Homo sapiens: one gene and its partner. The protein of the gene in region 2 interacts with the protein of the main gene of each other region in a pairwise test. Each region holds a gene or a part of one and is shown on either strand. Other genes may lie near its edges.

Evidence for each region.
Region 1: the proteins of CCNK (region 2) and PRR20C interact in a two-hybrid assay, tested with the Homo sapiens proteins (one large-scale study listed by BioGRID).

What each region holds. Positions count from the first base shown.
Region 1 is NC_000013.11:57,152,780-57,156,860, reverse strand, and holds the start of PRR20C (proline-rich protein 20C), read right to left. Parts: upstream 2,801-4,081; 5' UTR 2,587-2,800; intron 2,433-2,586; 5' UTR 2,414-2,432; coding exon 2,362-2,413; intron 1,341-2,361; coding exon 727-1,340; 3' UTR 1-726.
Region 2 is NC_000014.9:99,494,909-99,498,408, forward strand, and holds part of CCNK (cyclin-K), read left to right. Parts: intron 1-589; coding exon 590-721; intron 722-3,500. UniProt on the Homo sapiens protein: Regulatory subunit of cyclin-dependent kinases that mediates activation of target kinases.

The DNA of each region.
Region 1 (4,081 bases), on a different chromosome or scaffold from region 2:
GGAAGCCAAGGACACTGCCGTCAAATTACTGATTCCTGGTTTAGCGGTTCCAGTGAGTCATGCACTCTCCTTGCTTCCGTTAACCGCCCCCCCCCCCACCCCAACACCTTTTGTCTGATTCGTCACATGTCCTTTGATCCCCTTTTTCCTCAATCTGTTTGAAATTTTACCTTCTATTCCAATTCATTTAGTGGTTCCCAAAGGGTACCCACGTTGAGACTTAAAAATGTGTCAGTCTAGATTTTTATTGCTCTTATATTCAGCCAGTCTATCGTCTCCAGGCACTAGAGAAGCACTTTAGTAACTTCTAGCTCCTTCTGAGTTTTCGCATGTCCCACATGTCTATATGAGTGTCTTCTGGAATTTTAATTCTAGGTCATCAATCCTTTTTCCAGAATCGTACTTCTCTGGACTTAAGAATACAGTTTCCTAATTTCCATGCTTAGTGATCCTTGTTGCATCCCACTTCTTCCAGGTTGTCTGGGTTGGCTTCTTCTTGGCTGAAAAACGTGACGTGTACTTTCACTGTACATGACAGTTCCATTCCAATCGCCTTGTACAGAAAGGGTGTTTGGCAGCTTGCATGTTGTAAGTTGCGTACTCCAAGTTCAGGGGAAGCTCAGGCTTCAGGTCCAGTCGGGGGAGGAGTGGAGCAGAAGTGGGGCTGGGGGGAACGTCCAGGTGGAAGGAAGGGAGGCTGGGAACAACGTGGGTGGCAGATAGTGGTCAATACGCAATGTCGGTGAGGAACACTGGGACCCCTTGCACGTAGGTGCCCTGGGGGGTTTGAATGACTTGTAAAACCGCTGAGTCACCCAGAGCCCTAAACCCGATGCAGGGATAGAGGGTCAAGACGGGTTGCCAGTCAACAGCCTGAGGCCCAGGAGCAGCGGGCGGCTCCTGAAACCCCAGCTCAGGTTGCGCCACGTCGGGGCCAGGGCCTTCCTGCACAGTTCCAGGCGGAGGACCTGTTTCAGAAAGGGAGAAGGCTGCGGTCTCCGTGATTTCCGGTTCCCCCTGGTGGCCTGGCTCTCCATGGTGGTCCAGTTGGATGTGCACGTCCGGTGCCATCAAGCCTTCTGCCCCCTGTCTCTGGCCAGCGTCCCCGCGGGGCCCAGCCCTTCTGCCACGGCCTCGCCCTGGCCGCCGGCTTCCTCCCCGGCGCCGGCCTCTCTCTGCAGGAGGGGGTGACTCTGGGCGAGCTGGGGGCTGCCGTCTGAAGGGTTTCACGTAAGCGATGGGTTTTGCGGGTTGGGCTGGCTGTGCGGGCCCATCTGCTTCCACGGAGCCTTCAGGGTCCGCAACACAGCAGCCTGGCTCTGGAGGAGGCCCACCTGAGGCTAAAAGAGAAGCGGAGCGTGAGCAGAGAGAGACAGAAGGAACTTCACCCGTCAAGCAGTTATAGGATACTTTTACAAATAAATACTCAGAGAAAAGAGGGATTTCTGAAGTTAAAATTGTGAGAGAAGAAACAAAACTCTCCACGGAAGTTGGAGAATGAAGTTGAGAAGGTCTCCCACAGAACAAAGCAAAAACCTAAAATGATGGAAAGAAGGATGAAATATAAGAGAATTAGAGGTATGCTGTGGCTGAGACATTTCACCAGAAAATTTCAGAGTGCTGAGGAAAAAGAGAAGATTCTAACAGATTCTAGAGAGCGGGAGACAGAGAAAGGAAAAGTCACATGGAAAGGGCTAGGATTCCACATGTCTCAAAAGTCAGACATCTCAAAAGCAGCAGTTCAGTCTAGAACATAACAGAAAATGTCTTCGAAATTTCAAGGGAAATGAATTTCCCACCTAAAATTTCCTGTCCAACCGAAGTTTCGCTGAAGAATCTGGGAGGGGAGAATGAAGATGTTTCAGACAAGCAAGATGTTAAAGAATTTCCTTTCAGTGGATGCTTTATTGTTATGCATCTGTCAAACTAGACAAGATTAAAAGATTTAGGACACTCAGCGTATGAAGGGAAAAGTTTTGGAGAACAACGTGGCAACAGCCGGAAAATTCCAACTCCTCCGGGAAAGAACAAGGTGGAAGTACCGGTTTATCATAGATCAAGACGTAGCGTGAGGACTCGCTCTGCTACGGAGAAACAGTAATACAAAACTAAACAGAAGGAAACAGCGACAACAACAGCAAATCTCAGATTTGGGAAATGGGATTACGGTTCGGAAGAGGGAAAGGAATTTCCCAGATGATGTGGAACCCGGGAGCTGACTTCCAACAAGCAGCCCAGGTTGAGGCAGGCTAGGAGAAGGTGAAACAGAGAATGCTTGATTGAGTTTGAGTGTCAACCATTGGGGAAGAATTGGGGAACAGACGAAATTAAAAAGAGAGGAGTGGCAGGCGTTTGATGTACCTTGATTAGGGGCCATGGAGCGAAGTCGCTTCGAAGGCCTTGGTTCCTCCATGAGCAATCGGCGGGAGGGGCTGGGGAGAAAAACAAGAGAGCAAGAACGGATTTAGGAAGACAGAGGTGACAAGGCAGGGGGATGGCCGTGGCCTTTCTAGGGGAATGAGGATTCTGTCCCCAACTGCACCCACCCGAGATCCGTCCACGCCTCCGGGACCCCCAGACACACACCTGATCTTCCCACAGCTGGCTCCGGAGATCTGAAAATTAGGAGACTCTTCGACGAAGAGAGGCCCGAGGAGTCGGAGGTGTCCACAGGTTCACCGCTGTAGCTCTGAGGTAGTCCACCCGCAGCCAGGGAGTCTGGAGGGAGCACGCAGCAGGTTCTGGCTCCGAGCCCAGCAGAAAGCCGACTGCTGGAGGCCGAGCGCCGTCCCTCTTATATGGCAGCAAGGCAGTCGCGTAAGGGACAGGCGTCGTCAGAGGGGGGCCGGCTGGGGCGGGCCTGGCTGGGCTTGCGAGGCGCATTGGGCCAGTCCCCTGCCAGTCAAATGGGGGCCCTTCTGAGATGCCGCCATTTCTAGACGTCCGTGGTTGATTGATTAATCTAATCATCGAGGAAAAAAAATTGCATAATGACCTCTGAGTGTCAGCACAATGAGGTGTGGTGCCCTGAAAGCGGCTGACAGGAAGATGCGATTAGCTTAGATCTGAGCATGGTCAAGGAAAGCATCCAAAGCGGGGATATCTGGGCTGAAATCTGGAACATAACGTTTGAAATTAGTCATCCTGAACCGGGTTGGGAGAGGCAGGGAGGGAGGAAGGGGAGTGAAGAGAGTGTGCTGAGGCCCGGACTGGAAGGGAGCCCGGCACATTCTGGGAATGGACGGGAGGCCAAGTCCAGGCCCGGAGGTGGTGCGAGGTGGAGGCAGGGTCCGCGCAGGAGCTGGTCTTGTTCCAAGGCAGCGGAAAACCGTGGAACGGTGTCCGGCAGCGGGTTAACATTTCAGAAACGACCAGCCTGGCTGTGAAGGAGCGCCAACCCAGGGTCCGCAGAATAAGTCAGGAGAGGCAAGAAGGCTATTGCAGCCCTCGGGGTTGGGCGCAGGGTGCTGTTAGACTGAGACTCAGGGAGGTAGAGGAGGAGAAAGTTCCCTGGTGGGAGAGAAATTTCCAAGAGAAAGCGAGACCCAGTGTGGACAGCCCTTGAGGAAGAGACTGCGGCCTTGGTAGCCCGCCGGTTCATTCAGGCAGAGGTGGACCGAGAACCTGCTCTGAACGGGAAGTTGCGGAGCTTGGCTTGCGCACATCTGGTTGAAGGGGCTTTTGAACTGCCAAGTGAGGATGTCAAGTGGCCTTTTGTAAAAAGAGTCGAGCTCAGCGCGATGGCGACGGGGCTGGAGATGCGTGTGAGACCCACACCGCTGGCTTTTATTGCTGTGGGTGCACTCACGGGTGGAGGAAGACAGCGGGAAACACAGCAGGACGCTGGAGGGGATCCCACAGTGGGTTATTTGGTTGGTTTGCATCCTTGTGTCTTTTACAGAGACGGGTTCTCGCTCTGTAGCCCAGGCTGGAGTGCAGCGGTGCCATCTCGGCTCGCTGCGGCTACTTGGGGGGGGGGGGGGGGGGGGCGGGGCGGGCTGAGATAGGAGAATCAGTTCAAGTGATTCTCCTGTCTCGGCCTCCGGAGTAGCTGGACTACAGGTGAGCGCCACCACATCGG
Region 2 (3,500 bases):
GGCCTCTTTTATAAGGGCAGTAATCCCATTCAGAATCATTTCCCAAAGGCCTCACTTCTTCATACCGCCACCTTGGGAATTAGGTCTCAAGCTATGAATTAGGACATAAACATTCAGACCATAGCAGAAAGAAAAGGAAGCATGGGCAGTGCTGAGATGGATTCCACAGGACTGTGCTAGAAGGAAAAGGAAGCATGGGCAGTGCTGCTGAGATGGATTCCGCGGGACTGTGTTTAGTTGTGCTCTTTCTTTTTCCACGGCAAAGCTTGCTGTTTAGGGAGTTAATTTCAGATTGGAATATGAGAAGAAAATTTATTTATGTGACTCTTTTCCTTTTTGGCATTTTCTTTGTTTACATGACTTTTTTTTTAAGAAAGTTAAATTTTAAATAATTTATGAAGCTAGAGTTTGGGGGATTTATATGTATAAAATTTCCTTCAAGCTTCTAGAGTATCGGAGTATTTGTGAATGATAAAAAGAAAGGTAGGGGAATGAGGAAGACCAGTTTATTACGAAGGCCAAAATTTATTGTATCTATTTCTGTGTGACCTTTGATAACAAAAATCAAGAACTTTTGTTTCCCTTTTAGGTGACAGGAGCCTGTTGCCTCTTTCTGGCTGGGAAAGTAGAAGAAACACCAAAAAAATGTAAAGATATCATCAAAACAGCTCGTAGTTTATTAAATGATGTACAATTTGGCCAGTTTGGAGATGACCCAAAGGTAAGAATGATAATAACTTCCTGCCTTCTGGTCTTGATTCCTTATGGTAGTATTGTACAGTTCCACATGTTGACAGTGCCTGTAGCCCTTGTGTCTGCCAGTCTCTTGAGTTCCTAAGAGGGCCTTCTGTAGAAGTTACTTGATGCTTTTGTAAGAAAGGAGGGAAGATCGTGTAGCCTACACTTACTCAGTGCTTCCTTATGTGCCCAGCAGTATTCTAAGTACTTTGGGGCAGTGGCACATTTCATGGATATGAGCAAAAATCCTCTTAATTGCCATTAGGACTCTGCTTCTTAAGTGCAGTGGTGATGGCAGGGTTACAACTCCAGCTAGCTTCTGGGTCAAACAAAAGTATGTATGCTGTATGTACACATACACATGCCTACATATGCCATGTGTCTTTTGCTTCTAAAGAATGTTGGAAGGTATCAACATTTGCAGCATTTTTATGCACCCAGAGCTTGATACTGGTCACACCAGCCATCCTATCTTTTCCATACAGCTCACGCCAGTGTCAGCAAGTGGTGCTCAAATAATTGTACATATTTTGTTGTGTTTTTAAAATACCACTTTTAGGGACCCATGGCAGTGTTCCTCCACTCCCATTCGCATCAAGTTCCCCTTGTTGCAACCTCAGTAACACCTGTTAATTATCCTTCATAACATTTATCACAGTTTGCAATTAAATAGATTTTCAAAAATACTTTAGGCCAAGCCGGGCAGATTGCTTGAGCCCAGGAATTCAAGACCAGCCTAGCCAACATAGCGAAACCCCATCTCTACTATATAAGAATAAACTGGCCAGGCGTGGTGGCTCACGCCTGTAATCCCAGCACTTTGGGAGGCTGAGGCGGGCGGATCACGAGGTCAGGAGATCGAGACCATCCTGGCTAACATGGTGAAACCCCGTCTCTACTAAAAATACAAAAAATTAACCGGGCGTGGTGGTGGGTGCCTGTAGTCCCAGCTACTCGGGAGGTTGAGGCAGGAGAATGGCATGAACCCGGGAGGCGGAGCTTGCAGTGAGCCGAGATGGCACCACTACCCTCCAGCCTGGGCGACGGAGCAAAACTCCATCTCAAAAAAAAATAAATAAACTAATATTACTTTAAAAAAAAAAAACCTTTATTATTTTTTGCTGGGCATGGTGGCACGCACCTGTAGTCCCATCTACTTGGGAGGCTGAGGCAGGAGAATTGCTTAAGCCTGGGAGGCAGAGGTTGCAGTGAGCCAAGATTGCGCTACTGCACTCCAGCCAGGACGAGAAAGCAAGACTCCACCTCAAGAAAAAAAAAAAATGCTTTTTTTTTTTTTAGAGCAGTTTTATGTTCACAGCAAAAATGAGTGGAAAGTACAGAGATTTCCCATATACCCCCCACCCAACACATGCACAGCTTCCCCCATTTTCAGCATCCCCCCGACCAAAGTGGTACATTTGCTATGACTGATGAGCCTGCATTGACACATCACCCAGAGTCCAAACTTTACATTAGGGTTCATTCTCAGTGTTGTACATTCTGTGGGTTTGGACATACGTATAGTAACATGTAGCCACCATTATAGTATCATGTAGTCTATTTTCATAGCCTTAAAAATTCTCTGTGCTCCACCTGTTTGTCTCCTTCTCCCCGCTAACCTCTGGCAACCACTGATATTTTTACTGTCTCTATAGTTTCACCATTTCCAGAATGTCATCGAATTGGAATCATATAGGATGTAGCTTTTTCAGATTGGTCTCTTTCACTTAGTGGTGTGCATTTAGATAGTAGTATCCATTAGATGATTTTTATCAAATTATCACACACATAACTCCCTCCCCTTCTCAGCTGTAAGATGCATGAAAGCAAAGACTATCTGTTTTGTCTAATGCCTCATTCAGTGGCAGGACAGAGTAGGCATTCAGCAAGTACTCGTGGAATAAATGTCAAACTAATGGTCTGAGGAAATTTCTAAATCACAGTTAAAGCTAAAGCGATGAAGTTCAGCCCCATTCATGGTGTTGTTTTTCCTAACTAGCTTGTATTGTCTCACAATAGTTATCTTTTTCTCTGCCAAGCATTATGTATGTATATACAAAATGTATAGTCATTCTCCTCATTGCTTTGAGGAGTTAACAAGGGCCCAGAACACTTTTATACATATTGTGGTTGTGATTAACACTAGTATTTTCTAAGTATTGCCAATGTGGGTAACTCTTTTGAACTTAATTATAAATCCATTAATCTGTTTATAAACATTTGAACCTATTAGGAACTCATATTAACTATAACCAAAAATGCAGTTTTATAGAAATAATTTCACCATCAGATAATGTTTTCAATGTGCATGGGTATTTGATTTTTACTGAGTAGTGGGGCCCTGTGTCCTAACGTGATAAGTCTGATTGTAGGAACATGCTGTGGTTCAGTCACACCCCCGTCACAGGGGCAGGTGAACCTTGTGGCTGGCAAGCTGTGCTTAAGGATAAGGCATCACACAGATCTGGGACCACAGCAGGGCATGGACTCGTGGCAGCTGCTGGTTTGTGCCATCCCAGGGTGCCTTGGAGAAGCCCCCTTTACTTTTAGCCTTTACCCACTGTACCATGAAGTCAGGAAACCAAGCCCCAGTCCAGGAACAGTGAAAGTAGAAGTTCTGAAGCTCCTGTGCCCCAGAAAATGGGAAAAGAGGGGTCACCATACCAATTAGGTCTGAATGGGGGAGGGGGCTTTGCAACCTGCCCCCTGCCTCTCTATCTCGCGCAGTCTTCCCTGGTCGGAGTCGGGGCCAAAGGAAAACA